4 separate regions of the Homo sapiens genome follow, and regions 1, 2 and 4 are each reported to be linked to region 3. The links are microRNA targets in miRTarBase. Many come from high-throughput screens and were not tested one by one. Region 3 holds a microRNA gene; each other region holds the end of a gene's coding sequence.

Region 1 (7,834 bases), not on the chromosome of region 3:
TTAAAAATAATTTTGCAATAAATTTTGTAGGGTGTTTTTGTGGGAATTAAAAATGTTAGTAAATATTAAAAGTTAAATATAGGAATGTGAAGGTTTATTCTTAAATAGGCCATGACACTAGAAACCTGGAATTGTTAACTCTATTAGTAAAGGTTATTTAAATATTAATAGATTTGATTTCTTATTTTCCTTTTAGATCTTGGGAATTAAGTGTAGTTTCTTAGGTGGATTCAAAACCATTGCCCCTCCTAATAAGATGATTAAGCTTTTAAGGAACTATTTAAAAGCCTATCATACAAAGTATTTTCAGCTTCCTAAATTAATTTGAAACCTATTCATTTGGAGAAAGACTACCAAATTTATTTTTCCAATTGTTGGCCAATTCTTACAATATTTTGAGAAACAGGAAAGAATGAGAAGTTTTTTTTTTATTATTATTATTTGTTTTGTTTTGGAGACAGTGTCTGCCTCTGTCACCCAGGCTGAAGTGCAGTGGCGCAATCTCAGCTCACTGCAACCTCCACCTCCTGAGCTCAAGCCATCCTCCCACCTCAGCCCCCTGAGTAGCTGGGACTACAGGTGCAAGCCACCATGCCTAGCTAATTTTTGTATTTTTTGTAGAGATGGGGTTTCATTATGTTGCCCAGGCTGGCCTCAAACTCCTGATCTCAACCAATCTGCCCACCTCGGCCTCCCAAAGTAGAATAAGTATTTTGAAGTCCAAGACTTAAGAGTTAAATAATTAAGCTTAAGTTTAAAATTGCATACCAATCTACCTGCTGTATTAAACTGACACAACATCTATTTTAACAGGGGAACGCTGCCTTGATGATGACACTTACATGAAGGATTTATATCAGCTTAACCCAAATGCTGAGTGGGTTATAAAGTCAAAGCCATTGTAGAAGACTTAACAAGCTGCAGATAACCATGTGGACTTCTGTCATAATTCTTGCTGAGTCAAGAGTGTAAATAAAAGAAATGGCAGGACTCATATTATTCAGTTGTACCCAAGTATTTAAAAATGACTCTCTTAAGCCTTAAAAAGTCATAGATTTGTGCTGCTGCCAGAATTATATTAATTATTATTAATGTTATTATTAGAAAAAAAATTTCTGGAGTGAGAGTAAAGAGGCTTAATTAGTTTGTGGGCAGTTTTCATATGCTCTGTGAAATGTGTCCAGATGTGACATAGTTTTTTTTTTTAATATGTGGAAATGTCTTCTCTTCCCATTCTTTTCTCCTAAAATCATATATACTGTAATATATGCTCTCTCACCTCTATTACCTCCTCACATCTACCCTTTCCCAGTTAGGTTTGCTTTTTGACCAAAAAGATAACAAATACCAGGTATGGCAAGTTGTGAAGACAGCACATTAAAACATACCTAATTTCACAGTATTCCTGTCACGACAGAATGTTAGTATTCATCTCTTTGAATCATTTGCTCAAATAATAACATTCCACCTTTTCCTGCTGTATCACAGGAAGTGATTTGCATTTTTTTTCAGTTCATCTGACTTATGTTCACAGAACCGTATCAGCGACCAAGAAAATAGGACTGTCAGAAGCTGCCAGTTATTACTGAACCATTAAATACTTATATACTAAGAATAAATAAAATATACCCATGTGAAATAATAATTGGATTATGGATAACAAGAGAGTGAAAGCCAAAGCACTTTCTGTCTACTGTACTCTTCTAAATGGAATTTTAAAAGTCATAGCTGGCTTTACGTGTTGTCATTATTAGCATTATAAATATGCATGATAGTATAATCCAGTAATGGTTGAAGAATGTATTTTACTTAAAGAGGGATTTTTTTTTTTAAGTCCTGAATAAGTCTACTGGAAGAATTATTCTTCTGGGTGAAAAAGCTTTTGTTTGTGTTCTTATTTTAAATAATCGGAGTCAATTTATTAAAATGTTCTTGAAAGTACTATTCCCAGGGATTTTAATGCACAAACCATATTGTGACAAGAGATGAGCCTCTGTACTGTAAATAAGAAATGAAGTAGAGAAATGTTAAATATTTTATGAGTTTAGAATATAGTAAATAAAAGGTGATGTAAATGAATGCTGCACAAACGGTGTTCATGATACTTTTAGTAGTACTTTAGGAAAAACTACACATTCTCAGAAGCTCTTGATGTCTCTAATGAAGGGGGGGAATGCTGTTAATGAGAACAGTCATAAATTTTTAGCATATAATTACAAGAACAGCCTGTGGATATGATCACTTAAATGATTTTGTGGTGATTCGTGCCATTGCTTTTTTATTTAAAAGAAAATTTTGTAATTAAATGCCTTTTTCTAAATTATCTTCTCTTGGAATCATTACTTTTAATCCTATGTGTTTATGAGTATTTTTGCTTTTTTTTTATTAATATTGAGAAATGGACTTTTTTGTTATTAAAAGTCACCTCTATTTTCTATTTTCTTTGTAATTTTTAAAGTAGGAAGATGTCAGAGATGTAAATATGTTTTCGTCTTTAGTTTTTTTCCTTTTACAAATTTTTATTCTTCAGGATTTTCAAAATACAGTTTAGTCTGTTTCTTTGACAATATGTATTAATTTCCCAATTAGCAAAATGGTACTTATTAGTGGGTTGAAAACAATTAATAATATAAAAGAAAAATTAAGTGCTTAAAACATTTTAGGAGTATACAACTTCAAAAAAAAAGATAGCAGTGAGGATAATGATTTAAGTAAAAGGTTGTCTGAAGCATATGCCAACTAAATTTCGCAACGTTTGCTACCTACCTGAAAAGGAGGGTCAGGAGGGAGACACAACATATTTTTGATCATGAAAAAGTATCTTAATTTTAAAAAAGTGAAAATGCCATTTTATTTTGAATCCCTTTTAGAACTCACGACCCAAGTTCATCAATGTTGAATAATATCACGTTTAAATAACAAAAAAATATGGACTTTAAAAAATCTCAAATTTTTTAGAGACAGGGTCTTGCTCTGTTTTCCAGATTGGAGTACAGCAGTGCATTCGCGGCTAACTGCAGCCTCAAGCACTGGGGCTCAAGCAAACCTCCTGCCTCAGCCTCGTGAGTAGCTAGGACCACAGGTGCATGCCACCATGCCTGGCTCTAAAGAGAAAAAAAACTTGATACCATAGAGCCTTGAATATAAATATCCTGATGTTAACCTACTGCTTTTGCTGTGATTTTTTTTCCTTAGTGAGTTTTAAATCTCAGGCTAGATTTTTATTTGTTTTTCTGTGTGTGTATGAGACAAAATAAAAATAAATATATTTGCCTTGAGTTTAAAACATTTGAATTCTTAAAGGAGGACTGGTTGTCCTGGTAACGTTGGTGATGCTCTTTTCTGAAAGAGGCTTCATTAATCTGTTCTCACACTGCTAGGAAGAAATACCTGAGACTGGGTGAGTTATAAAGAGGTTTAATTGACTTACATGGCTGGGGAGGCCTCAGGAAACTTACAGTCATGGCAGAAGGGTAAGCAAACATGTCCTTCACATGGTGCCAGGAAGGAGAAGGATGAGAAGCACAGGGTGAAGCGGGGAAAAGCCCCTCACAAAACCATTAGATCTTGTGAGAACTCACAATCACAAGAACAGCACGGGGAACTGCCCCCATGATTCAGTCACTTCCCACAAGATCCTTCCCCCAACATATGGGGATTACAATTCAGATTACAATTCAAGATAAGATTCGGGTGGAGACACAGAGCCAGACTGTATCAGAGGTCATTGTAATTCTTTGCACTTACACAATCTTTGCTTAATGCTGCTGTAGGATTCGATGTAAATTCCTTACTAGTACTCTCTGGGAAAGGCAGATTATTTTACCGACTTCAAGGAATTTTTCATTATTGTCTGTCTTCGTTTTCATTAAACTGGTTTGGACTCTCCATCTGATTGTCCTGATTTCTCACCTACTCATCAGTAGGTGGCAGTATTGGTCAGGCATTCCTTTGAATCGAAACTACGGGAAGTTTTTAAAATGAACCCGAGTTCATAGGGAAGTTGCTAAGACTCAGTGCCAGGCATCTGCAAGGCAGCTAGGTAAGAACACTGTGGAGCTCTTGCTTTGATTACCGATTCTGAAATTGTAAATAATTTCAGAGTTTCTATGTTCAATCTGTTTGTCTGCTTTTATCCTTAATCCATTGAATGGGAAGGGCGGTAGAAGAGGACATTTTTCTAAGCTGAAATTAGGCTTTTCACAACGTCCATTTCAAGCAGAACGATTATGACAAGAAGGAAGGCAGTGAACCGGGAAAGTAAGTGAAGGGATGTCTAAGATAAGAAGGCATAATTAACTTTTTTTTTTTTTAATATAGTTTAAGTTCTGGGATACATGTGCAGAACGTGCAGGTTTGTTACACAGGTATATATGTGCCATGGTGTTTTGCTGCACCCATCAACCTGTCATATACATTAGGTATTTCTCCTAATGCTATCCCTTCCCTAGCCCCCCAACCTCTGACAGGCGCTGGTGTGTGATGTTCCACTCCCTGTCTCCATGTGTTCTCGTTATTCAATTCCCACTTACGAGTGAGAACATGCGGTGTTTGGTTTTCTGTTCCTGTGTTAGTTTGCTGAGAATGATGGTTTTCAGCTTTATCCATGTCCCTGCAAAGGACATGAACTCATCCTTTTTTATGGCTGCATAGTATTCCATGGTGTATATGTGCCACATTTTCTTTATCCAGTCTATCATTGATGGGCATTTGTGTTGGTTCCAAGTCTTTGCTATTGTGAACAGTGCTGCAGTAAACACACGTGTGCATGTGTCTTTATAGTAGAATGGTTTATAATCCTTTGGGCATATAGCCAGTAACGGGATTGCTGGGTCAAATGGTATTTCTGCTTCCAGATCCTTGAGGAATCACCACACCGTCTTCCACAATGGTTGAACTAATTTACACTCCCACCAACAGTGTAAAGTGTTCCTATTTCTCCACATCCTCTCTAGCATCTGTTGTTCCCTGACTTCTTAACGATCACCATTCTAACTGGCATGAGATGGTATCTCATTGTGGTTTTGATTTGCAATTCTCTAATGACCAGTGATGATGAGCTTTTTTTCATGTTTGTTGGCTGCATAAATGTCTTCTTTTGAGAAGTGTCTGTTCATATCCTTCACCCACTTTTTGATGGGGTTGATTTTTTCTTGTAAATTTGTTTAAGTTCCTTGAAGATTCTGGATGTTAGCCCTTTGTCAGATGGATAGACTGCAAAAATTTTCTCCCATTCTGTAGGTTGTCTGTTTACTCTGATGGTAGTTTCTTTTGCTGTGCAGAAGCTCTTTAGTTTAATTAGATCCCATTTGTCCATTTTGGCTTTTATTGCCATTGCTTTTGGTGTTTTAGTCATGAAGTCTTCACCCATGCCTATGTCCTAAATGGTATTTCCTAGGCTTTCCTCTACAGTTTTTATGGTTTTAGATCTTATATTTAAGTCTTTAATCCATCGAGTTAATTTTTGTATAAGGTGTAAGGTAGGCGTCCAGTTTCAGTTTTCTGCATATGGCTAGCCAGTTTTCCCAACGCTATTAAATAAGGAACCCTTTCCCCATTGCTTGTTTTTGTCAGGTTTGTCAAAGATCAGATGGTTGTAGATGTGTGGCGTTATTTCTGATGCCTCTGTTCTGTTTCATTGGTCTATATATCTGTTTTGGTACCAGTACCATGCTGTTTTGGTTACTGTAGACTTGTAGTACAGTTTGAAGTCAGGTAGCATGACGTCTCCAGCTTTGTTCTTTTTGCTTAGGATTGTCTTGGCTATACGCGCTCTTTGTTGGTTTCATATGAAATTTAAATTATTTTTTTCCAATTCTGTGAAGAAAGTCAATGATAGCTTGATGGGGATAGCATTGAATCTATAAATTACTTTGGGCAGTATGGCCATTTTCACGATATTGATTCTTCCTATCCGTGAGCATGGGATGTTTTTCCATTTGTTTGTGTCCTCTCTTATTTCTGTGAGCAGTGGTTTGTAGTTGTCCTTGATGAGGTCCTTCATATCCCTTGTAAGTTGTATTCCTAGGTATTTTATTCTGTTTATAGCAATTGTGAATGGGAGTTCACTCATGATTTGGCTCTCTGTTTGTCTATTATTGGTGTATAGGAATGCTTGTGATTTTTGCACACTGATTTTGTATCCTGAGACTTTGTTGAAGTTGCTTATCAGCTTAAGGATATTTTGGGCTGAGATGATGGGGTTTTCTAAATATACAATCATGTCATCTGCAAACAGAGACAATTTGACTTCCTCTCTTCCTATTTAAATACGCTTTATTTCTTTCTCTTGCCTGATTGCCCTGGCCAGAACTTCCAATATTATGTTGAATAGGGTGATGAGAGAGGACATCCTTGTCTTATGCTGGTTTTCAAAGGGAATGCTTCCAGCTTTTGCCTATTCAATATGATATTGGCTGTGGGTTTCTCATAAATGGCTCTTATTATTTTGAGATATGTTCCATCAATACCTAGTTTATTGAGAGTTTTTAGCATGAAGGTGTGCTGAATTTTATCAAAGGCCTTTTCTGAATCTATTGTGATAATCATGTGGATTTTGTCATTGGTTCTGTTTATGTGATGGATTATGTTTATTGATTTGTGGATGTTGAAGCAGACTTGCATCCCAGGGATGAAGCCAACTTGATCGTGGTGGATAAGCTTTTTGATGTGCTGCTGGATTCAGTTTGCCAGTATTTTATTGAGGACTTTCACATCGATGTTCATCAGGGTATTGGCCTGAAATTTTATTTTGTTGTTGTGTCTCTGCCAGGTTTTGGTATTAGGATGATGCTAGCCTCATAAAATGAGTTAGGGAGGAGTCCCTCTTTTTCTATTGTTTGGAATAGTTTCAGAAGGAATAGTACCAGCTCCTCTTTTTAGCTCTTGTAGAATTTGGCTGTGAATCCATCTGGTACTGAGCTTTTTTTGGTTGGTAGCCTATTAATTACTGTGTCAATTTCAGAACTTGTTATTGGTCTATTCAGGGATTCGACTTCTTCCTGGTTTAGTCTTGGGAGGGTGCATGTGTCCAGGAATTTATCCATTTCTTCTAGATTTTCTAGTTTATTTGTGTGGAGGTGTTTACAGTATTCTCTGATGGTAGTTTGTATTTCTGTGGAATCAGTGGTGATATCCCCTTCATCATTTTTTATTGTGTCTATTTGATTCTTCTTTTTTCTTTAGTAGTCTGGCTAGTGGTCTATCTATTTTGTTAATCTTTTCAAAAAAAAAAACAGCTCCTGGATTCATTGATTTTTGAAGGGTTTTTCATGTCTCTATCTCTTTCAGTTCTGCTCTGATCTTAGTTATTTCTTGTCTTCTGCTAGCTTTTGAATTTTGTTTGCTCTTGCTTCTCTAGTTCTTTTAATTGTGATGGTAGGGTGTCGATTTTAGATTTCTCCTGTTTTCTCCAGTGGGCATTTAGTGCTATAAATTTCCCTCTAAACACTGCTTTAGCTGTGTCCCAGAGATTCTGGTGTGTTGTGTCATTGTTCTCATTGATTTCAAATAACTTACTTATTTCTGCTTTAATTTCGTTATTTGCCCAGTAGTCATTCAGGAGCAGATTGTTCAGTTTCCATGTAGTTGTGTGGTTTTGAGTGAGTTTCTTAATCCTGAGTTCTAATTTGATTGCACTGTAGTCTGAGAGACTATTGGTTATGATTTCAGTTATTTTGCATTTGCTGAGAAGGGTCTTACTTCCAATTATGTGGTCAATTTTAGAATAAGTGCAATGTGCTGAGAAGAATGTATATTCTGTTGATTTAGGGTGGAGAGCTCTGTAGATGTCTATTAGGTCCACTTGGTCCAGAGCTGAGTTCAAGTCCTGAAT
Region 2 (7,749 bases), not on the chromosome of region 3:
TATCCCGTTTGGGAATTGTTTAGCTTCTTGAACCTGAGCTTTGCTGTCTTTCCATTTTGGAAAATATTCTGACATGATTTCTTTGAATGTTGCTTCTCTCTCATCATCTCCTTCAGGAACTCTGGCTATATTTATATTGCTCCTTCTCACTCTATCCTTTGTGTCTTCTTTTTTTCCCCCCCGAGATGGAATCTTGCTCTATCACCCAGGCTGGAGTGCAGTGGTGTGATCTCAGCTCACTGCAACCTCCACCTCCCGGGTTCAAGCAATTCTTCTGCCTCAGCCTCCCGAGTAGCTGGGATTACAGGCATCTGCCACCATGCCCAGCTAATTTCTGTATTTTTAGTAGAGACGGGGTTTCACCATTTTGGCCAGGCTGGTCTCGAACTTCTAACCTCGTGATCTGCTCACCTGGGCCTCCCAAAGTGCTGGGATTACAGGCATGAGCCACCATGCCCAACCTGTGTCTTAACTTCTTTTTTGTATTTTCTGTCTCTTTCTACTGCATTCTGGGTGATTTCTTCAAATCTATCTCCCAGGCTACCATTTCTCTCTTCAGATAAATCTATTCTATGAATTAACCTAGGCATTGAGTTTCTGATTTCAATCATGTGTTTTTCATTTATACTTCTGTTTCATTCTTTTAAAACTCCACTGGCAATCCTGATCTCTGCATTGCCACATTCCAGCTCTGAAATCAAGTCTCCGTGTGCCCTTGTCCAAGGCTGTCCCTTCTGGGCCTGTGTCTAGGAGATTTAGGAACTAGGAGATCAGCTTTCACGTTGTGCTCTGGGGATCCCTGGGTTCCCTGGTACTGATGAGAGGGTACTTGATCAGACCTGCTGCCTCTTATATATTGAATATTTCTTTTAAACAAGGGATTTGAAATAATTTTTTTTTGAGACAGTCTCACTCTGTCGCCCAGGCTGGAGTGCAGTGACGCAGTCTCAGCTCACTGCAACCTCTGCCTCTCATGTTCAAGTGATTCTCCCACCTCAGCCTCCCAAGTAGCTAGGACCACAGGCACGAGCCACCACGCCTGGCTAGTCTTTGTACTTTTAGTAAAGACGTGGTTTCGCCATGTTGACCAGGCTGTTCTCGAACTCCTGACCCCAGGTGATCCTCCCAACTCAGCCTCCCAAAGTGCTGGGATTACAGGCATGAGCCACTGCGCCTGGCCTTGAAATAAAATATTTTTAAAACCACTGGGCTAGGGGAGGTCTAAGTTTCCTTCAAGTTCAAATTTGTGATACTGAATTTTCATCTCAGATATGACAATGTTTTATGACAACCTGTTGACTCTGTAGTTTCTGACTTAGACGTGTGAACAAAAGCACCTGACCACCTGGAGAACTGGGTCCTGAGTTCTGTTGCTAGTGAGGAAAATCTGTTTTACTTCCTGAAAAATTTTCCAATCTTTTGAAAACTTGTAGAAAGCACTCAAGAAATGTTCATAGCATTGAGTCAAAGAGATGAATTGACTTGCCCGAGATCACACAGCTCAAAGCTGATGATGCTGGGATCCATGCCTAGGCAGCCCAGCCCAAAGCCAGGCTCCAGGCCACTGTGCCATGGCCTTCCCCATAGAAGCTGATCAGAGGGACACCAGCCCCAGGCCCACGCACTCCTCTCCATCTCCCCTCCCAGGCACAAGGGCACGACATTACTGTATCCAGACAGCCTCGGAGGCTGGGGCTGGGTCCAAGGCAGGGCCGTAGGGCCCCAAGTACCCCACACTCCTAACACCCATCCTCTCCTCTGTACATTCATCCTGGGACCCTGAACAAGTCCCAGGGGCTGCAGGCCTCAGCTTCCTTGTCTGTCCAATGGGAGAAACATTCTGGTGCCCCTCACCTGGGGACAGGTCTGGCAGCAATGAGGTCAGCCAGGGTGGGAGGCCCCAGGTCACTCCTGCCCTCGACCGGCTGGTACCAGTCACAGGCCACCTGGACTCCTTCCCTCTCTAAATGATTACACAGTCGTACAGATAATGAGATCTAACATTTATTAAACACTGATGTTGCACCATTTTCAGTCCTCACTAATACCCGAGTCAGGCACTATTATTGTCCCCATTTTCAGATGAGGAAGCTGAGGCACAGTGAGGTTAAGAGATAGTGTCTCTTAACACAGCCAGTTACAGAGTGCATAGGGGATTTAAACCAAGGCTCACTGACTCCAGAGCCCGTTTAGAGACACAGTGTGAGAGTTGGCATTTCCAGGCCATTCCGGAGACTCTGAGAACCGGCCTGAGGTGGGGCCCTGTAGGTACTGCAGCTCTGGTCCAGTTCTGGCCAACAGGAGAAGGCAGTGACCTCCTGTGGGGCAATTTCTCTGGCTTCCTCATGTGGAAGGCTCAGCTTTGTGAAAACAAGAAATAGATTTGCAAACTGGACAAGTGTGACTTCAGTCCTGATATGGTTTGGCTGTGTCCCCACCCAAAGCTCACCTTGAATTGTAATAATCCCCATGTGTCAAGACCGGGGCCAGGTAGAGATACTCGAATCATGGGGATGGTTCCCCATACTGTTCTGGTGATGGTGAATAAGTCTCATGAGATCTGATGGCTTTATAAATGGGAGTTCCTCTGCAAGGGCTCTATCTCTTGCCTGCCTCCATGTAAGACGTGATTTTGCCCCTCATTCACCTTCCACCATAATGGTGAGGCCTTCCCAGCCATGTGGAACTTTGAGTCCATTAAACCTCTTTCCTTTATAAATTACCCCGTCTTGTATGTCTTTATCAGCAGCATGAGAACAGACTGATACAAGCCCTCTCCAGCAGGAGACCAGAGGCAAGAGGAATTTGCTTCCTGTGGTTGACAGCCTCAAGAATGTCAGACACTATATAAACCTGCAGGGTGCCCTACTTCCAAGTCCCTACAGACATGGGCCTTTTAAAAGTTGCACAGTGGTGAGAATGTCCAGTTGGAAAGCCTCGTTAGCACAGTGCAGCCCGTCCATGGCTGAAGTCCTGGGCTTATCCTGGACCTGCCCTCATCCTGGACCTGCCCTCCCACGTCCTCCCTCCTGGCTAGCGGCAGCTCCAGCCTTCCAGTCAGGCCCACACCTCACAGTCCCGGGCTTGTCTCTGCATCCTCTATCCAGCCCATCACAGGTCCTGCTGCTTTGCCTTCAGAGAGTGTCCAAGAGTTGACCACTTGTCACCACCCCCACCACTGCCCCCATCCAAGCCACCAACATGGTCCTTTTAGAATGCAAGCCAGGTGCAGTGGCTTATGCCTGTAATCCCAGCACTTTGGGAAGCCAAGGTGGGCAGATCACTTGAGGCTAGGAGTCCAAGAGCAGCCTGGCCAACATGGTGAACCCCATCTCTACTAAAAATACAAAAATTAGCTGGGCATGTTGGTAGGCACCTGTTATCCCAGCTATTTGGAAGGCTGAGGCAGGAGAATCGCTTGAACCCAGCTGCAGTGAGCCAAGATTGCACCATTGCACGCCAGCCTGGGCAACAAGAGCGAAACTCTGTCTCAAAACAAAACAAAACAAAACAAAACGCCAGGCGCAGTGGCTCACGCCTGTAATCCCAGCACTTTGGGAGGCCGAGGCAGGTGGATCACAAGGTCAGGAGATCAAGACCATCCTGACCAACATGGAGAAACCCCATCTCTACTAAAAATACAAAATTAGCTGGGCGTGGTGGCGCATGCCTGTAATCCCAGCTACTCAGGAAGCTGAGGCAGGAGAATTGTTTGAACCTGGGAGGCAGAGGTTGTGGTGAGCTGAGATCGCGTCACTGCACTCCAGCCTGGGCGACAGAGGGAGACTCCGTCTCAAAAAAAAAAAGAATATAAGGCAGACCTTGCCCGGCTCTGACCAACACCCTCCAGGGGCTCCCATCTCATTCAGCCAGAACTGGAGTCCTCAGAATGACTTGCTAAGCCTGCACATCTGACCCCAGCCACCTTCTGACCTCATTGTCTTCTTCTCTCCCTCCCCCACCCTCTCTGCTCAGCCACTCTCTGCCTCAGGCCTTGTTAGCTGTCACCAAGAACCTCTCATGCTAAATGGAATGCCCCTGGGTGACTTTTCCCGCACCCTGGCATCCCCTGCCTCTGGAACACGGCCTCACTCACAGTGGGCTCTGGGGCGCTTGTTGTATGTTAGAAGCTCTCCCTGTTAAGGCCGCTGTGTGGAAGGGGCAGCCACATGGTTGCCTCCTCCACCGTTTCTGTCTGCCTCTGATGGCCCTCCGGCTCCCGACTGCCTGCACAGTCGGGGGGTGGCACAGTGCCTGCAAATCTAAGCCACCCTCTCCCACTCCCTGAGCAGCTCCTAGCCAATGACTGGAAAGCCTGGCACCCTTGCTTTCATCGCAGGCTCTGCTTCTGGGGTACACTCTGAGACAGGAGCTTTCCTCTGTCCTCTCCCGCAAAGAGCCGGTTCAACCTGGGGGTCTGGGACGATGAGGGACTGAGGTGTCTAGATACACTCCCCTGTGCGTGGCCCAGGCTGCATCATCTGCCCCCACTGCCTGGGCCAAGCCCCTGCCCTGGCTTTTCATTCCCTTTGGGAATCTGACACGTTCACGACGCAGGTACACAAGCCTTCCCGGGGCCAGGATGCTGTATACACAAGATAAACGGACTTGGGTCTTAGTCCCATTCCCCTCGGGTCACGCTCCTCCTCCACCCAGGGTGGCTACAGTCATGAACCTGACAGGTGTCCTTCTAGTCCATGCTTTTCTATTTTACCGCACATACACCCAGGAACAACATATGGCATTGCTGTGAGGTCTGAAAATTCATCCCAATGCCATTCTGCAATCTGCTTTGTTCACATTTGCGGGGGGCCAACGTTGGTGGAAATAGGTCTGGTTTAACAGCTGTAACTGCTGCACTGTGCTCCATACGATGAATGGACCGTGGCTTACTGGTCCGTACTCCCTATAATGAATGGACCGTGGCTTACTGGTCCATACTCCCTACAATGAATGGACTGTGGCTTCCTGGTCCATACTCCCTACAATGAATAGACTGTGGCTTCCTGGTCCATACTCCCTACAATGAATAGACTGTGGCTTCCTGGTCCATACTCCCTGTAATGAATGGACCGTGGCTTACTGGTCCGTCTCCCGACAGTGAGGCTGTTTCCAGTTTCTCACAACTGCAGCTGCTCAGCAGCCCTCTGCCCGGAGCACAGCCCCTTCCCCACAGCAGCCTTCCTCCCTGACCCAGAGGCCCATGTCCTCTTCTTTCGGGGCTCTTGCCTCTGTCTGTAATCCTCCAGGTGGGAAGACTCCTAGGTTGAGAGCAGGCTCCCAAGGTCACCACTGCAGCCCCAAGCCCGCTCGGCACCAGGCAGGTACTGAGCCTCTTTTGATTGACAGATGGACGCAAGAGAATAATGGGAGTTGTGCACTAGGCCTTGACCCTGTGCCAGGGACAAGCCAGGATGGCCTGGGAAAGCCCTGGCACTTGGTGCCCAGGGGGCAGAAGAGCAAGCTGTGAATAGCTAGACCTGTCCGTGGGGTGGGCCGAGGCCCTGGGGAACTTCTGGACGTGTCAGCCCAAGTCAGCTGTGACCAGACACAGGGGCTACCAGGAAGAGGTCGCCCCTGCCTCCTAACCTAGCATCGTCACTGGCCTGAGGAGCAGGTCCACTGCTAACAAGTTCACCATCACTTAGGGAGCCCTCCTCACGCCAGGCACTTCACACCTGGAGCAGGCACCAACCCTTTCTAGAAGACACTGAAGGCATGCAGCTAGTAAGTGGCAGAGCAGGATTCCAAAGAGTGCCTGGGTCATCTGGTTCAGAGAAACGGATGCCCACGCACCACACCCACCAGTGTCTCTCTCTCCTGTGGCCTCTGCTAGGCCAGAGCCAGGCTCAAGCCCAGCTCAGCCAACGCACATGCCTGTTTCCTCCTGCCATGACAGAATGGGGCAGCACAGCACAGGCTCCACCTGGGAACTGGCAGGAGACATCTTCCCAGGAACAAGGCCAGGCCCCAGCCCAGCCAGGAGATTGAAGGTGGTTCAAAACACAGCCCATCTACAGAATTCCCCAAACTTTAATGCTGTGCTCTGAAAAGGGAGGCTGGAGGTTGTGGTGGGACACAGTGTTGCTGACACCTCTGGCCTCCAGCCCTGCATCCCTAGGCACCATGTGACCAGGCAGTGAGAAGGACGGGGCCTCACTCCCATGCCAGACTGCTCCTCGGGCTGAGCAGGACCTGAAGCTCTCAGGGCTTCCACCAAAGCCCAGCAAACTTGGGGGAGGCCTGAGGGGGCATCAGCAGTCCTTAAAGGCCTGAGCTTGCAACACTCAGGCAGGACTCGGCTGAGGGCCTCTGTGGTGCCACCATGGGGTAGGAGGTAAAGAGAGACCCTGGTTCCAGCCTGGGAACCAGTGGGTGCCCTGAAGGGAGGGGAGGCCTCAGGGAGTTCGGGACAGGAGTGTGCATGGTACTGGGCGGCCCATGGGGGCTCCTGGCCTCTTGGTTCAGGCAATCCCTGAGCTGGGGACACATTCCATCTTAGGTCCAAGAGACGGAGGTCAGGAGCATCCCTAGAACGACCTCCCAGGCACGAGGAAGGCCCGGGGCAGGGCCGGGCGCAGCGTGGCTGGCTTCAGTACCCTCGGGCATCTTGACTCCTGCCCTCTGGGACTGCAAAGGGATCTGCGGGCGCCTCTGCTGAGTCAATCGTCTGGTAGGCACTACGGTCCTGAGAAGACCCAAGGAAACCTAGGTGACAGGGGACATGGTGGGAAAGAAAAATGAAGGGTGAGAACTCGGGATGTTCAGCTGAGTCCAACCCAAGATCCACCCCCGCCACCCTCGGGCTGGGCATCCTGACACCATGCACAGAGACAGAGGCAGCAGCCCCAGGCCCTAAACCTTTAGCGTGTATTATTCATTCAATCCTGCCGTATCCCTGTGCGACGGGTATTTTTATTGTCCCCACTTTACAGATGAGGAGACTGTGGGTCAAAGGGATGAAGTGACTTGCCCGAGATCACACAGCTCAAAGCTGATGATGCTGGGACCCACGCCTAGGCAGCCGAGTCCAAAGCCAGGCTCCTGGCCCCTGTGCCATGGGCTTCCCCAGGCAGCACGTGCTTAGGAACCTGGGCAGAGGGACATCAGCCCCGGGCCCACGCACTCCTCTCCAGCTCCCCTCCCAGGTACAAGGACACCACATTACCATATCCAGATGGCCTCGGAGGCTGGGGCTGGGTCCAAGGCAGGGCCGTAGGGCTCCGAGTACGCCACATGCCTCACTCCCATCCCCTACTCTGTACATTCATCCCGGGACCCTGAACAAGTCCCAAAGGATGTGGGCCTCAGTTTCCTCATCTGTCCAATGGGAGAAACATTCTGGCACCCCTCACCTGGGGGCAGGCCCAGGCAGTGCTGAGGTCAGCCACTGTGGGCAGCCCCAGGCCATTCCCACCCTCAACCAGCTGGTGGCAGTCACAGGCCACGTGGGGCATCTCATCTCAGGAGTGAAAGGCAGAAGGCCACACCCTACCACCTCCCTCCACTCCTCTCAAAGAGAGAGAGAAAGGAAGAGAGAGAGAGGTGTCAGAGAGCAGGCAAATGGCTCGGCCACCAGGAGAAGGAGTACAGGAGTTCAGAGAGGGCGTGGGAGAGGGCAGGTGTAAGGCTGGGTGAGTGGGGAGGGGCCGGTGGGCAGGGAAAGTGCCCCCTGTTCAGGGCTGTCTTCACTGAGGCTCCCACAGCCTACACTGGCACGGGCTCTGCCCTGGCCACCTAGCAGTCTCT
Region 3 (7,834 bases):
CACCCTAGGTTTTCCCCCCCTTTTTCTAGAGATACAAGAGGATATATAAATGAAAAATTTTATTTGCAGTTTTTCAGAGAAAGTCTTTCAAAAGATCACAAAGTTCTTGGTGTAGTCATCCATGCAAAATCAGGCAGGTTTCCTGGAACTGGGCTCTGTCTCAGAACATGTGTCTTGTATCGCTGAGATGCAGACTGGGTTGCTGTAGTATTTGGGAGCTTTGTAAGGGGCGTGTGGAAGAATCGGATCCTCCACCATGCTCTGCTTTGCCAGCCTAGGTGGCAGGATGCCTGGAACTCTTGACATCCATTTCCTGAATTTAGTTGTCTGTAGATTGGGTCATGATTCCTGAGGTTGCCAGCAGCAGTTACTTGACAGCACCATGCTGAACCAGCGCTTGATTAGGGCTTTGTCCTACTGTGATGAGAGAGCACTTAATTGGATTTATAACTGAAGGTAGAGATTGCTCTAACATAGCAAGATGATGTAAAGGGCACCCATCTGTAGTGCAGTTCACAGCTTTTTCCTTTGTGCATGTGGTGATTATTCTAAACTCCTAGTTACTTAAGGGAGCTTGCCTAAATCTAAGTTGAGGTTACTTAAGACAATTCTGTTCCTATATAAAATTGAAGCATTCTGTGTTTTAGTAGGGAGGGCTTTATCTGTTGGACATCATAATTTTTATACTTTGCCTGGTTCTGTTAGTGATAGAAATGCATTCCTTTAGTGATTTTTAACTGTAGTGTTTGAATTATCTTTCATGTAGTCTGAAGCATTTTAGAAGACTGCAGAAAACATAATTGTTTATTGCAATAGTCCAGTTGAAATCTAATAGCTACTATAATGCAGTGTCCCCTAAAACCCAAGATCCAGGCTGAAGAGCGCCATCTACTGCTCCTCTTGGGCACTGCTGGGAAGCATTGAAGAAGAGGAGGATGTTCAGGAAAGGCCCAACCAGCCTCTTGTGCAGGGTTTGGAGTCATTCAGCTCAGTGGTTGCCTGTTATTTGCTAGGAGACATTTTATAAAGAATCATTGAGGTTTTATTTCTATTTTGGCCCCATTCAGCACGTGAGCCAGTTGAGCATGTTGGCAATACACAAGTACTTACAGCTACTTGTCTCCCAGGGAGGGAGGCTTTAAAAACTACAAGCAAACTGGTGATTTCAGTGGAATTTGATTAGTGCCAAATTTAACTTATTTGTGAGTTTTAGGAGTAAAAACAAATTACAGTACATTTTCATCGTCCCAAAAAACCCATTCACAGGGCACCCAGCCACCCTAGCCCTGAATAATTAAGATGTCCAATGGATGAAGCCCCTGCTAGTAAAACATAGAGTGCTTCAGTTTTATATAGAAACATACTCGTTTTAAGTAACCCCAACTTAGAATTAGGCAAGCTCCCTTAAGTAACTACGAGTTTATAATAGTCACTACATGCAGAAATCTACTTCCATCTTTATAGATTCGCCTATTCTGGATACTTCATGTTAATTGTCGTACAATAAGTTGCCTTTTGTGACTGACTTCTTTCACTTGTCATAACATATTTGAGGTTCATCAGTGTCCTAGCCTGTATCAGAACTTTATTCCTCTTTACTGCCAAGTAATAGAATTTTTCTAACTTTTTATCAGTTAAAATTGCCTAACTAGGAAAAGTCTGGGTTTTAATAGCACCTTAAAGTAGACTGTGATTTCTGGTCTGTCTTATTGGAAAAGGATATGTCAGAGTATGGTTTTCTGAGGTTGATGCTCTTCTTCTCTTTCTTAAGAGCCCTAGGAAGGGTAGCTGGCTCATTGAGCTATCTGCCTATTATAAGAGCAGTCTGTGACTCATGAAATCTCAGGAGATTTTGTAAAGCAGTTCACTGTGGGCCAGGTAAATGTTTTATTCCCAGAGGCGGGCTCTTGGTTCAGCATTAAGAAGGTAGCAGATTTCACTATTGGGTAGCAGAATTAGTGTAGTACCTATAGATTTAAGTTACGAATATTGATTTATTTTCACTAAGAGTACACATTAATTCTTTTTTGTTTTTTGGAAATGGGGTCTTGCTCTGTCACCCAAGCTGGAGTGCTGGAGTGCAGTGGCACAATCATAGCTTTCTGCAACTTCAGCCTTCTGGGTTCAAGGGATCCTTCCACCTCAGCCTCCTGAGTAGCTGCGACTACAGGCATGTGCTACCATGCCTGGCTAATTTGTAAAAACTTTTTTGTAAAGATGGGGTCTTGCTATGTTGCTCAGGCTGGTCTTGAACTCCTGGGCTCAAGTGATCCTCCTGCCTCAGCCTCTCAAAGTGCTGGGATTGCAGAGTGAGCCTCCATGCCTGACCCCTGTTAGTCATTTTTTTGGGTAACTTTACAGGGATCTCCGTGATGTTATGGTAATTGAGAAAGACACACAGGTTTTGTTGTTTGTTCTTGTTGGTTGTGTAAGATTTCTACCCTCTTTAATACTGAGAGGACTTGAAGCTGACCCAACACTTACCTAGAATTAGACTGTTCATTAAGGCACTTAAAATCTATTTTGTGTGAGTACAGAGAGCATCTGAATGGGTACAGTTGTTGTCTCTTGTTCCTCACACAGGCACCAGAGCAATGGAGCTGTCATTGCCCGCTGTGGACAGCCAGAGGTTAGCTGGTGGGGCTGGCGAAATGCAGATGATGAGCATCTGGTACAGTCAGTAGCCAAAGCTTGTGCCTCTGACTCCCGATCGAGTGGCAGCAAGCTGTCAACTAGGAACACTTCTCGAGACTTTCCCAATGGGGGAGACCTTTCTGACGTGGAGTTCGGTAAGGTGCTCCCTGGACCCATGGCAATGATTTTTATAGCATCTAAGAACCTTTTCTTGAAATGGCCTCTTCCTTACAAGACATAGATTTACTTTTATAGAAGTGAATGTGCAGAGCTTCACTTGATGGGATTGATTGAGGAGTCATGGGTCTTGGCAGAGAATCAGAAGACCCTTTGTTTCAAACCTGAATCAAGATATTAGTGTGTTTGTTGTCTTTCTTGCCATTGTGACAAAAATGGAGTGTTTATGTAATAGAGGACTTGCAGTATCTGCAGACCATGGCAGGAAATGCCAGGCTTCATGAAAGGACAACAGATACAGAAATGAAGTATAAGAGACTGGGCTGTGTGAACCCCATGTGTACTCTGGGAGTCAGTTTTGGAGAATAAATCCTTCTCATCTTTCATAAGAAGGCCACATAGAAAAAAAGAGAAAAATCCTATGTATCAAGGGTTTTGGTTAGGGGATTTCATTTTATTGAGCCTTTTTTGTGCCATAAGATGTGCTTGTGGGTCTAATTCTGCACAGTTCTGGGAGAGACAGGCTCATTTAGTATGCCCTCTCCCTCTGTGTCCCTAGATTCTTCTCTGTCAAATGCTTCAGGAGCAGAGAGTTTAGCCATCCAACCGCAGAAGCTTTTGATCTTGGATGCACGCTCCTATGCAGCTGCTGTGGCAAACCGAGCCAAAGGAGGAGGCTGCGAATGCCCAGGTGAGGTGTATGGTGCTTTGTTCCCCATACTTTCTCCTTGTGAGTGTAGCCCTTGCCCAACTGAGACTTAGTTCCCAATTTGAAATAAGTGGCAAGCCATATTCCTCATCCATCCTGTCGTGAGAGTGCCAGAGCTTCTCTTTGGATTCTTAACACTGTATGTTCTTTTCTGAGGAGAAATGGAGGAGGAGGTGCAGTGAAGTCACATAATCTTCCTTCCTTGTGCCAACTTGTAGGTGATAAGGAAAGCAGATCTTCCCCATAATAAGACCTGTTCATGTTTGGAAGCTGCTGCTTTAGTGGGCTCAATTTCTCAGCCGTCTAAAAGCTTTTTGTTGCCTTTGACAGAGGGTATGCTCACCACTGGCCTTGTAGCAAACTCCTCAAGGGCCTCTCCTTAGAAAACCTGGGGTGAAAATTGAAGCAGTAAATACAGAACCCTAGTAAGGTATCTCTGTCCTGAGCTGTAACACCATTACTGTTGGAATGCTAGCTTTCCCCAAGGAGGGACCCCCCTCAGTGCCTATGGCACAGGCAGAGGCACCAGGCTCTTTGTTCAGATGTGGTCTAAGCTGGAAATTGAAAGCAGCTGTACCAAGGTGAAATTTGAATGTGTGAACGCATTGTTCTGTGGAGTTCTTTTCAAAGAGATTTCAAAGCCACAAGTTAGATAAGGCCCAAGAAGTAAAGCCAGAGTGAGATCGAAGTAGGCCTTTCTTTTAAAAAATAATAGCTTTTATTTTATGTCAGTATCTTCTTTACAAATCTAACCTTCCCTTTTCACGCTTTTTGAAAAGATAGCTAAAATTCAGTGTGTTCCTCTTATTATAAAGGATTGGGCTAATAGTTAAGCATTTCAAAACATTTCAGTTTCGTTAATCAGAAGCTGCAGTGGGTTTGTTTTATAGCCAGTTTGCTTTTAAATTTGGCCATGTGGGCTTTAAGTTCAACGTATTTGTGTTCTCTTTATTGTTACTCTCTCCAGAGTATTACCCAAACTGTGAAGTTGTGTTTATGGGGATGGCAAACATTCATTCTATTCGGAGGAGTTTTCAGTCTCTGCGGTTGCTGTGCACTCAGATGCCAGATCCGGGAAAGTAAGTCCTTGGCCTTGGCTTTCATTTTGCATTGCTCTTAAATAATAAGTTTGCTTCTTTCCTTGAACTAAGGGGGAAAAAAAGAAAAAAAAATTAATTTGGAGCAGTCTTTCCTTCTGTTTCTTGGTAATCTTCAGTTACCAGACCAGTCTCTGCAAGTATCTCCTTGCTGGGTCTGAAATGTGGCAGCACAGAGGAAGAGTTGGGAGAAAATACAGCCATTTGAAAGGTTTTAAAATCTGCAGCACAGAAGAAATCTCAGCATCAAAACAGAAGCATTACCTTACTGTTTGTCCTGGGACCTTTCCCTTCCACGTCATTTTTAGCCCAAAGAAATTTAATTCTTCAGTTTCTGATGTCCCATAGTGATACATAACCTGTTTTGAACTGGGATGTTTTATCATGAAAAGTCAGAATTTATTCATCATGTTCTAAAGGGTTTAAACTTGCCATTAAGTCAGTTCCTTTTACATCTGCTTTCAATTTCTAAACTGTTCTCATTTACTAAGCATATTATCCTGATTCTTATTGCTTATTAAATATGAATGGCTGGCATTTGCAGTGAGGAAGGTGAACTAATACCCCCTCCAAGGGTACTGATTGAATACAAGATAAATTAGGAAGAATGCTCTGTAAAACAAATATGGACAGATAAGTATTTAAAAATCCTGTTTTACTATTTCAGGAAGCCAGAGATAGGTGCCAGAGAAGACAGAATTTTCTTTTTTCTGGTATTTGTGCTGGAGCCCATAGTTGTTTCTCTGGGTCCTATTCAGTAGATCTGATGATCACATCAAGTTTTACTGCGTTCTTTATTTGATTTATTAAATCAGATGCTGCCTAAACCACTTATATTGACTGCCAGTAGCAAATGATTAAATTCACCGTAGTTGTCATCAGCCAAGAGGATGAAGCAGTGCCTTTGGGGAAAGCCTGACCGGAGAATTGAGCTTGCTGCCTCCTTTGGGGATTAGCCATTTGCATTTGCTACACAGTTCCAGGTCCCAGCTAGCAGCGCTTTCTTCCCTAGGGTGGTATGTAGAAGGAGCCTTACTAAGGACCCAGGAGATCGGCCGCGAACTGTGTAACCTTGGCCAAGGGGTTTAACTACTGTAGATCTCAGTTTTCCTGTCTATAAAATGAAAGACATGTAATCAACACTACATGATCTAATACCCTCCATATATTAAAATTCTTAAAGAGCTATCAGAGTCAAAAAAGATAGAATTAGCCCTCACCTGGTCCACATAAATGTCTTGGGGATTTTATTAAAGGTAATGCTTTTATGTATTTGGCAGCAAATCATAATGCTGCACTGAAGTCTCCCTCATGGGTAAAAAGCAGCTGTAGCAGTGATGGGCAGCTGTAATTAGGCCCCCGGCCTGTGTTTGGGGCTGTGGAGGATAGGGGAATGGTAGGCTTCTAGTGCAGGTTGAGAACAGGACAAGGGAATGGGGAGTCTCTCAGCAGCCCCTCCTTGGCTGGCAGGTTTTGGAGTACAGCTTCATTAGTCACAGACAACACCAACTGGTATTAAATAATAGTTTAGTTAGGTTCAAAAGAACCTCACACCGGTTCTCTTGTTTACCATTTCTTCAGGTGCTAGGAGATAATTTAGTATTTGTTCTCCTAAGCCTTATCTTTTAGTTCCTTTCAAGAATATGTGAGGAATGAAATAAACAATTGATCCATCAGGAAAAAATGTTTCTCAGGTACCTGCTAGGAGATAGAAAGTCTTACGATTGGATTTTTACCCATAACAGACTTACAATTCATTAAACAGTGGGACTCCCTACTGTATGCTAGGCACTGTGCTGGGGGTACAGTTATGACTGAGACATAGTGTTAGCCCTCTGAGGAGTCACAGTCTGGTTGGTAGTCCAAACAAATCCATATACAACCAGTACTTATGCACTGCATTCTGTTGTCTCTTTGCCTGGAAAGACCCCCACCTCCTTAGACTATGCCAAAATTTCATACTTATTCCACAGGGTTTAGTAGGCCTTTACAGCCTTCCCACAGTCCCCTGACAGAAATGTTTATTTCTTCCTCTGACTCAGTGTTTGAAAGACTTGACTTGTGATCTTAACTACAAATCTGATCACATTTGGGAAAAATCAACTCCTTTTTAGGGATTGGGAGGGGTGAGGGAAAGCACAAGAAACAAAATGCAACAGAGTTTAAAAAGCAAGTGTGATTAGCTTGTGATTACTCCCAAGGGGCAGCTACTGCTATCTGATACTCCGAAAGTGAGATGGAGTCTCTCTCTCTCATCCATGCTGGAGTGCGGTGGCCTGATCTCAGCTCACTGCAACCTCCACCTCCCGGGTTCAAGTGATTCTCCTGCCTCAGCCTCCTGAGTAGCTGGGATTACAGGCGTGTGCCACTATGCCCAGCTAATTTTTGAATTTTTAGTAGAGATGGGGTTTCACCATGTTGGCCAGGCTGGTCTGGAACTCCTGACCTCAAGTGATCCACCCACCTCAGCCTCCGAAAGTGCTGGGATTACAGGCATGAGCCACTGCGCCCGGCCTCTAAAAGTCTTTCAAAAAAAGGTTCTTCCTAGATCGCTGCTGAATCCAGTCTGTGTTGAGCCCAGCAATACTGTGTGGCCATTGGTATACTAATTTGTATCAGTATAAATTATCAGATTGGGCTCATCTTGTTTTAGTCAGTAAACATTAAAGAATTAAACAGTGGTAAGTGTTACAGTCTGGGTCATAGGCAGGGTTGTGTGTACCATTCTTGTATATGGCATCCAGCTTATGTCTCATAGATATATTTGTATTCATGAGTTTTTCTTTTCTTTTCTTTTCTTTTTTTTTTGAGAACTTGTTGGGCGTAGTTGCTGATCATTAAATATAAATATCTTCTGTTTTACATCTCAGAAGTGGCTACATTTTTTATTCAGGAGAAGATTCCAGAAAGAGCCACTTTCCTTATACCATGGACTGAAAAATGTCAAATATTTTGCCCGGGGAATCATCCATACAGATTTTGGAACAAAAGGTGTGCTATTAATTGTAGCCCCTATTTCTAAGGCTCTTCTCTATTGTATAGTAGGGCTTGGGCCTCATCCTGAGACATGCTTTATAAACACACAGATTTTTTTGTTTTGGCAGTGTTATATTTGGAGAGAGAAATCTTTGGAAATTGCTTTTTCATTTGACAATCATTGAGCATGATGCAGTAAATCATAAAAAAATCAGCATTTTCTAATCCTCTCCTGTTTTTA
Region 4 (7,834 bases), not on the chromosome of region 3:
CGTGTCCACCCAAATGCCGCTGCGAGAAGCTGCTCTTCTACTGCGACTCTCAGGGCTTCCACTCAGTGCCAAACGCCACAGACAAGGGCTCTCTGGGCCTGTCCCTGAGGCACAATCACATCACAGAGCTCGAAAGAGATCAATTTGCCAGCTTCAGTCAACTTACTTGGCTCCACTTAGATCACAATCAAATTTCAACAGTAAAAGAAGATGCTTTTCAAGGACTATATAAACTTAAGGAATTAATCTTAAGTTCCAACAAAATATTTTACTTGCCAAACACAACTTTTACCCAACTGATTAACCTGCAAAATTTGGACCTGTCTTTTAATCAGCTGTCATCTCTGCACCCAGAGCTCTTCTATGGCCTTCGGAAGCTGCAGACCTTGCATTTACGTTCCAACTCCCTGCGGACTATCCCAGTACGCCTGTTCTGGGACTGTCGTAGTCTGGAGTTTCTGGATTTGAGCACAAATCGTTTGCGAAGTTTGGCTCGCAATGGATTTGCAGGATTAATTAAACTGAGAGAGCTTCACCTAGAGCACAACCAGCTGACGAAGATTAATTTTGCTCATTTCCTACGGCTAAGCAGTCTGCACACGCTCTTCTTACAATGGAACAAAATCAGCAACTTGACATGTGGGATGGAGTGGACCTGGGGCACTTTAGAAAAGCTAGACCTGACTGGAAATGAAATCAAAGCCATCGACTTGACAGTGTTTGAAACGATGCCCAATCTTAAAATACTCCTCATGGATAACAACAAGTTAAACAGCCTTGATTCCAAGATCTTAAACTCCCTGAGATCCCTCACAACCGTTGGTCTCTCTGGCAATCTGTGGGAATGCAGCGCCCGAATATGTGCTCTGGCCTCCTGGCTGGGCAGTTTCCAAGGTCGGTGGGAACACTCCATCCTATGCCACAGTCCTGACCACACCCAAGGAGAGGATATTCTAGATGCAGTCCATGGATTTCAGCTCTGCTGGAATTTGTCAACCACTGTCACTGTCATGGCTACAACTTATAGAGATCCAACCACTGAATATACAAAAAGAATAAGCTCATCAAGTTACCATGTGGGAGACAAAGAAATCCCAACTACTGCAGGCATAGCAGTTACTACCGAGGAACACTTTCCTGAACCAGACAATGCCATCTTCACTCAGCGGGTAATTACGGGAACAATGGCTTTATTGTTTTCTTTCTTTTTTATTATTTTTATAGTGTTCATCTCCAGGAAGTGCTGCCCTCCCACTTTAAGAAGAATTAGGCAGTGCTCAATGGTTCAGAACCACAGGCAGCTCCGATCCCAAACACGACTCCATATGTCAAACATGTCAGACCAAGGACCGTATAATGAATATGAACCCACCCATGAAGGACCCTTCATCATCATTAATGGTTATGGACAGTGCAAGTGTCAGCAGCTGCCATACAAAGAATGTGAAGTATAATATCTACCCATCATCAAAAATCACATCAGATAAGTAACCTATTTTACATAGTAGAGGCTAAATACATATCTAATTTTTACCAATGGTGACATTAAGCCTAATTTTCCAAACTAAGTGGAGACTTAGTTTTTGAAGTGTTGAAGTATTTTTAATTTTTTAAATGAAACCATATTTTAAGTGTTAAATGAATCAATGCTCACATTAATTTGCACTCCTGTTGGAAAGTCTAAAATGCTTACTTCAAAATAAGAAATGTATGTAATTATATACAATCGTGTGTAAACCTTTACACTAAGGTCTCCATATACTATTTTTTTCTACTGAAAACAATTTAGAAAGAAGCTATTGGGCAGAAACAGATATAGATCAATACCTGTTTGATCACTGCTCTCCATCCCATGTACCACAACTATCTTGCTGCTTAAAAGGAGACTTAGTAAAGTTCTCTTGTATGATAATTTGGTATTTACTCAAATCTTCAATTTCTTGCCAGGGTGGGAAGTAGAATTTCATGTATGCTGAAGACTGGTAAATATTAAACATTCTCCTTCCAGAGTTTCTGCCTGGGTTAGTAGATATTATCAAAGTCCATATCATGAATTCAGAACCCTTTAATGTAATTCTAATAAGCTGAGTGACTCTTTAATATATTTACACAATGAATCCAAGTGACTGTGAAAAGGTCTCATTACAATGAAACCAATCCTAAATAATTACACCAACTTCTTATACATTTCTCGTTTGACTTATAATGGACATGATTTTTGTGGCATTTAGACAACTGTTTTAAACTAGCATTAAACTGTCATTGTACTAATTAATGTACTAAATCCTATGTTTACATTAATATGTGAAAAAAGATTTAGAAGATATTTTGGAGATAAACAAGACAAACTGAGTCAATTTAACAATCCTGACATGCTCCCTCCAATTTAAAAGCGCACACACACACACACACACACACACACACACACACACACACTCTCGCGCTCTCTCTCTCAACTATCATGATCAAAGATGCCTTGACAAAGGGGTTTAAACCTCTTTCTTCTGCTTTTTCCTGATCTTCAAACCTCAAAGAGCCAAGTTAAAAATAATTGGCTAGCAACAGGCTTAACACTGATTCTTATTGTATTACAAAGGAACCATGAAAAAAAACACTTTCCAACTATTATATAATACATTTCGATCTTTCAATAAAGATACGCATTCACGCTGTAAGTGTAGTTCAGTGTAGGTGAAGAAAACAGCACCACTGAGATGAATCTCATGGCAGAACAACTCGACATGCCTATGCAGCCACACAGTGGTAACTTGAAGGCAGCACAGAGGTGAGGGATTAAAAGGAAAGGCAGATTTTGAAATCTGACTCTCAGGTTAGCTGGAGTTACAAGGCAGCCAACAATGATTATACACAATCTGCACCAAACAGGGAAAGGACCTGCTGCTGAAAAGGGAAGAGGGGTAGATCCTCCAATGTAAATATAAACATGCCATAGTTAACAAATGATAAGGATGCCACATTTTTCATGCAGAAAAGAACCACAGGTATTCAGTTTCTTGTATTATGATTTCTAAAGAAAACCTATTAAATATTTGGAATTTAGATGCAAGCTACTCATTCACACAGAACTTTTCCATAAACATTGTTCCACATATTGAAAAAACTGTAAAATTATAGCACTAACTTGATTTTAGAAAATGAGCATTTTTTACAACTGCCATTTACTGTATGTAGAAAAAAGACATAAAACCTTAGAGAAAGCCACTACCATTTTTCAAGTTATCTTTTCCCCAACATCAACATCAACATGATATCCTTCATTCAGGGCATATTTTTTCTTCCCAGGATCAAACTGAAAACATGTTAAGGCTATAGTTTAGCCAGTAAGATTTAATCACAATTTTTCTTCTTTAATACTAAGAGATGGGTACCTTAGTACCCTTCACCTAACATCTCTCGGTAAAAAGCAGACAAGATCACAAATTACAGTAAAAATGTGCTCTTTTTTAAGGTGGGCAGATTAGTTTGTCAAAGTCTCAGCCCAGTTCAATTCAGTTGATCTCGAGTGGTGAGTATTTTGTCTCTTGTTAAACCAGACCCTGGGCTTGTCTGGGCAGAGACAGAAGCTGATTTAACAGCATAGAGCACAGCGCCCTACTTCCCCACAGACAGGCTGAATTAGAAGCCCCTATTACAAATAAGAGCACCACGAGCTAAAATTTACCAACCCATTTATCAGGATGACCATTGCCATTTGTCAGGTGACAGACAGCTTGGTCACAACACAACTGTGTCCTGAGCACACAAGATTCCATCAGCCCTGAAGGACAGCAGAGGAGTATTTTCCATCATTTCAAACCACAAACAAAATTAAGATTTAAACTGTGGGATGGGTAAGAAATCCCCTTCTTTGGCTGGGAATCTCCACCTTAATCCTTAAAGGACCATAACTGGCAAAATCCTTAGTGTACGGACAAAAGCAAATTGGAAAAGCCAGCCATTTACTAATTCAGAGGAACAGCATAGCCAAGGCTAGCGAGGCATACTTTCCAGTTGAAAAAAATCAAAATTTTTTGCCTTCCATTTTTCTGGGTAATGTCCTTTAAGAAAAGTGAATGACAGTAGTACCAAAAAGGTATTTTCCTTTCTCATTTAAAAGCAAAAACCTCCCTTTTTAATTGCCTGTAGAAGGCAAGATTTTCTTTCATTTTTGTCCATTTGTGTTTCAGAATCAGCACAGGTTTGAAGATTAGACTGTTAGTCATCTGTGCTTTCTTTACCAACTGGCTAGAACGGAACAGCATCACAGCAACGCTGCGGATCTTGGTTACACAGTGTCAGAGCTTTTGTTTTTTGATGGGGTTTTATCCTCTTCACCACCACTACCCACTCCATTTTTTTTCTATTTTTAAGATTAGAGGAAAATGACCATTAAGAACCAGAAAAATAATTAATCTCTCTGGAAAAAGGAAAGCTAAAGAAGACTATGATACCATACCCATCTAGAAACCAAGAACTAGTTTGAAATCGTTTATATTCATTTCTGTAGCATGACAGGGATTTCAATCACCTTTCTGAAAAGAGTGGGCTGATAAACTTGTAAATCCACACACAACTCTGAGAATACCCACTGCCAGCATCAAAAAGCAAAGATACTAATTTTTTAAGCCAAAAATCTGTACTAACACATGTAATTTCTTAATGTGCCTAAGTTAATTTCTGTATCAATTCAATAAATGGAATTGACTGAACTTCCCAACGCCACTAATTATTAAAATCCATCTGCTTATTCTAATGCTAGTCACCAAGAGCTAGACTCCATCTTTCCAATAAAAATGAGCCCTATGTAGCACTAGGTTTGAATTCTAAAATTCAAAACAGGCATTTCATTTTCTTAAGGCACACTTCCTACACACAGCTATCAGGGGAAAAAGCTATAAATGTCCTGTTCTTTTTCTGAAGTGTGGATATCAATATAAAATTTGTTAAAGAATATTTTTAACAGCTGACTTACATGATCGTTTTCCTAATACAGGAATACAGCGACAGACCTATCTGAAAAGTCTGTTTGGGGGCATACTTTTCATATCTTATTGACTAAAGCCCTTGAGCCAGGAAAAAAAAAAAAAAAGAGAGAGAGACAGTAAGGCCATCTATAGATAATTAAATATTTCTCTATCTAACCTGGGGCAAACTCATAGTACTTGAATAAGGCCAAAAACAAATAGAAAATTACTGTTTAAGCTTTCATTCTGCTATTGCAAACATTTGGAAACCTCTGCAACTCTTTCAACTAACATTTTTGTCCTTAGCGGTTTTTTTTTTTTTTTTTAAGTCTGATATATGGAATGTTTGGTGAACCTTCCTATCAACACTGAGACTGGAAACTCAAAGTACAGTCCAAATACATTGTGTTCAATCACCTTCAAGAGCCATTTTTCTTTTTGGGTGGGAGGTGGGCAGATGGGTTGAGGGTGGGAAGAAAATACTATTATGCAGGGTGTTTTGGGAGGGGGGAGGGTAACATAAAGAGCAGTGTACAGGCAAGTTTTGTTATTAAAATTGTGTATACTGTAAAAAGTGAATGCCTTCTTTTTACTTTTCCTTGATAACCTATCAATTTTGACATGTGAAACTTGAAAAGCCATTTGTGACAGACATAGAAATCTTAAATGAACAGTTGTTTTATTCCATGTTCCTCTACAATGTCAAATGTGTCCACTGAAAAAAGGGGCAGCTAATCATTACCTGTCTTCAGAGAGAGGTAAAACTAGGATAAGAAGAAAGTAAAGGTAAAGTGGTGAGAAGGGAGAGTGCCTAAAAAGCTGTCATGCAGTAAGAAGCTGCTCTGTCAAGAGCCTGAGCAAGTGGACAAACAACTGTCCCAGGCTCACAGGGCATGGAGTTGGCTGCCCCTCTCTGAATCCTCCATTACAGTGAACTAACACCACAGAGAGCTTCGGAAAGGTACCAATTGCCTGTATCTAGCCAACAGCGACTTGGCCTCTACCTTGGGGGTTGGTTGATGTCCATCCCAGCAGCACCTTCCATGCCACTCCTAGGAGGGAGGTCCCACAGGTGCTTACACACTAGGACCATGAAGATCCCTACATGACCTCCTCCACCCTGGATGACGACTCAGTGAGTACAGATGGGAAAAGGAAGGGAAGATTTTAAACTACAATTGACCCTTGAACAACACTGGGGTTAGGGGTGCCAACCCCCTGCTCCACACAGTCGAAAATCTGCATAACTTTTGACTTCCCAAAAATTTTTATTAATAGCTACTGCTGACTAGAAGCATTACTGATAACATAAACGGTCAGTCCATATTAGATAACACATATTTAATACCGTCAGTCAAAATAATACATATTTTATATGTTATATGTATGATATATGGTATTCTTACAAAAATAAGCTGGAGAAAAGAAAATGTTATTAAGAAAATCATGGTGGGGCATGGTGGCTCACGCCAGTAATCCCAGTACTTTGGGAGGCTGAGGTGGGTGGATCACCTGCGGTCAAGAGTTTGAGACCAGTCTGGCCAATAAGGCGAAACCCTGTCTCTACTAAAAACACAAAAATTAGCCAGGCAACCTGGTATGCGCCTGTAATCCCAGCTACTCGGGAGGCTGAGGCAGGAGGATTGCTTGAACCCGGAGGTGGAGGTTGCAGTGAGCTGAGATCATGCCACTGCACTCCAGTCTGGGTGACAGAGTGAGACTCCATCTTAAAAAAAAAGAAAAAAAAAAAAAGAAAGAAAGAAAATCATAAGAGAAAATACATTTATCATTAAGTGGAACTGGATCACCATAAAGGCCTTCATCCTTCTTGTTGTCTTCACATTGAGTAGGCCGAGAAGGAAGAGAAAGAAAAGGAGTCAGTCTTACTGTCTCAGGGTTATCACAGGTGGGAGGAAATCCACATATAAGTATCACAGGTGGGAGGAAATCCACATATAAGTAGACCTTAACAATTCATACCCATGTTGCTCAAGGGTCAACTATAATGTCCTTGGCTTGCTACAGATAAACATCCTCAGGACAGGATTCTACACCTGGGCAGTGCTAGGGCATAAACTGCCCTGGCTTCCAGGAGCTGACTGCCAGTAGTCTGCCGTGTTTGCCCAGATGCACTTATTGTTTCTCCAGCACCACAGCCCCATAGCAGGACCACATGGAGGAATAGGCAAAGCCACCCTTTTCCCAATGCCAGGGAAGCTGGGATCAGAGAGACTAAGAGAACTCTCACACCAGGAATATCAGCAGTAACCAGGGCAGAAGCAGGAAACAGAGAACACAATTCTATTGTCAAACTCATCCCATAAGCACTAGAGGGCATAGGTGATGGTGGTTTTAAATTGCACAAAGGAACACATTCCTATACTTGATAGAGTTAAAAGCAGAGCTTATTAACATAATTCTCCTACATTTTAATTTTGAAAATCCCATTTAAAGCTACATCTGATTTATCAGTTATTTTAATTAATTTTGTCTATATGCCACAGCATTCTCAGGTTCCCACTCAAATATACAATAGATTCTTCCTGGTCTGTTTAAAAATTTGGGGTAGTCATGTCTCCCTTAGAGAGACAAAATGTACTACAAATTGTCTTTTACAAAGAGGGAAGGGGAAAAAGAGGTGAAAGTCATAGCTACTGCAAAAACATTTCTCCTTAGCATGAATTTGACCTTTATCCTCAATACTTGTTTTGGGAATACTCTTAAAGGACACATCTTAAACCTCCCCTTCTACTATCTGAAGAGGACAGTAAAGAGCAAGAAATCTCCAAAGTCAAGTACAATCAAGCATCCTATCCTGCGAAGCCTACAAATGAAAATACTACCCTCTATATATGGAGGCTGAAGAGCAA

The links. Region 3 holds the annotated microRNA hsa-miR-6818-3p (UUGUCUCUUGUUCCUCACACAG, at 2,562-2,583, shown strand). A microRNA usually pairs through its seed, bases 2 to 8, with sites in the 3' UTR of a target mRNA and lowers its output. Matches are read on the target gene's strand: a 7mer-m8 pairs with bases 2 to 8, a 7mer-A1 pairs with bases 2 to 7 and ends in A, and an 8mer does both.
Region 1: the mRNA of ARHGAP18 is a reported target of hsa-miR-6818-3p. Seed matches in the 3' UTR shown: 7mer-m8 at 2,957-2,963 and 7mer-A1 at 3,246-3,252.
Region 2: miRTarBase lists AGTRAP as a target of hsa-miR-6818-3p. The part of its 3' UTR that is shown has no 7-base or 8-base seed match.
Region 4: the mRNA of LRRTM2 is a reported target of hsa-miR-6818-3p. Seed matches in the 3' UTR shown: 7mer-m8 at 3,574-3,580 and 7mer-m8 at 5,095-5,101.

Annotation. Positions count from the first base shown.
Region 1 is chr6:129,571,584-129,579,417 of GRCh38, reverse strand. ARHGAP18 (Rho GTPase activating protein 18) reads left to right here. Exons shown (of 15, transcript NM_033515.3): 15 at 814-3,286. The coding sequence ends at 905. Among named protein-coding and RNA genes, the nearest start is that of ARHGAP18, 130 kb to the left of the region's middle.
Region 2 is chr1:11,749,036-11,756,784 of GRCh38, reverse strand. It overlaps AGTRAP (angiotensin II receptor associated protein), which reads right to left. Exons shown (of 5, transcript NM_020350.5): 5 at 6,016-6,708. The coding sequence ends at 6,593. Among named protein-coding and RNA genes, the nearest start is that of C1orf167, 9.3 kb to the left of the region's middle. RefSeq lists an enhancer at 7,247-7,749.
Region 3 is chr22:30,004,531-30,012,364 of GRCh38, forward strand. It overlaps MIR6818 (microRNA 6818), which reads left to right and starts at 2,519; the gene lies at 2,519-2,583. MTMR3 (myotubularin related protein 3) reads left to right here. Exons shown (of 20, transcript NM_021090.4): 10 at 2,584-2,789; 11 at 3,371-3,502; 12 at 4,488-4,599. It overlaps HORMAD2-AS1 (HORMAD2 and MTMR3 antisense RNA 1), which reads right to left. Exons shown (of 5, transcript NR_110541.2): 5 at 4,216-4,666.
Region 4 is chr5:138,866,630-138,874,463 of GRCh38, reverse strand. It overlaps LRRTM2 (leucine rich repeat transmembrane neuronal 2), which reads left to right. Exons shown (of 2, transcript NM_015564.3): 2 at 1-5,543. The coding sequence ends at 1,454. The region is part of intron 7 of CTNNA1 (catenin alpha 1); the gene reads right to left. Among named protein-coding and RNA genes, the nearest start is that of LRRTM2, 4.8 kb to the left of the region's middle.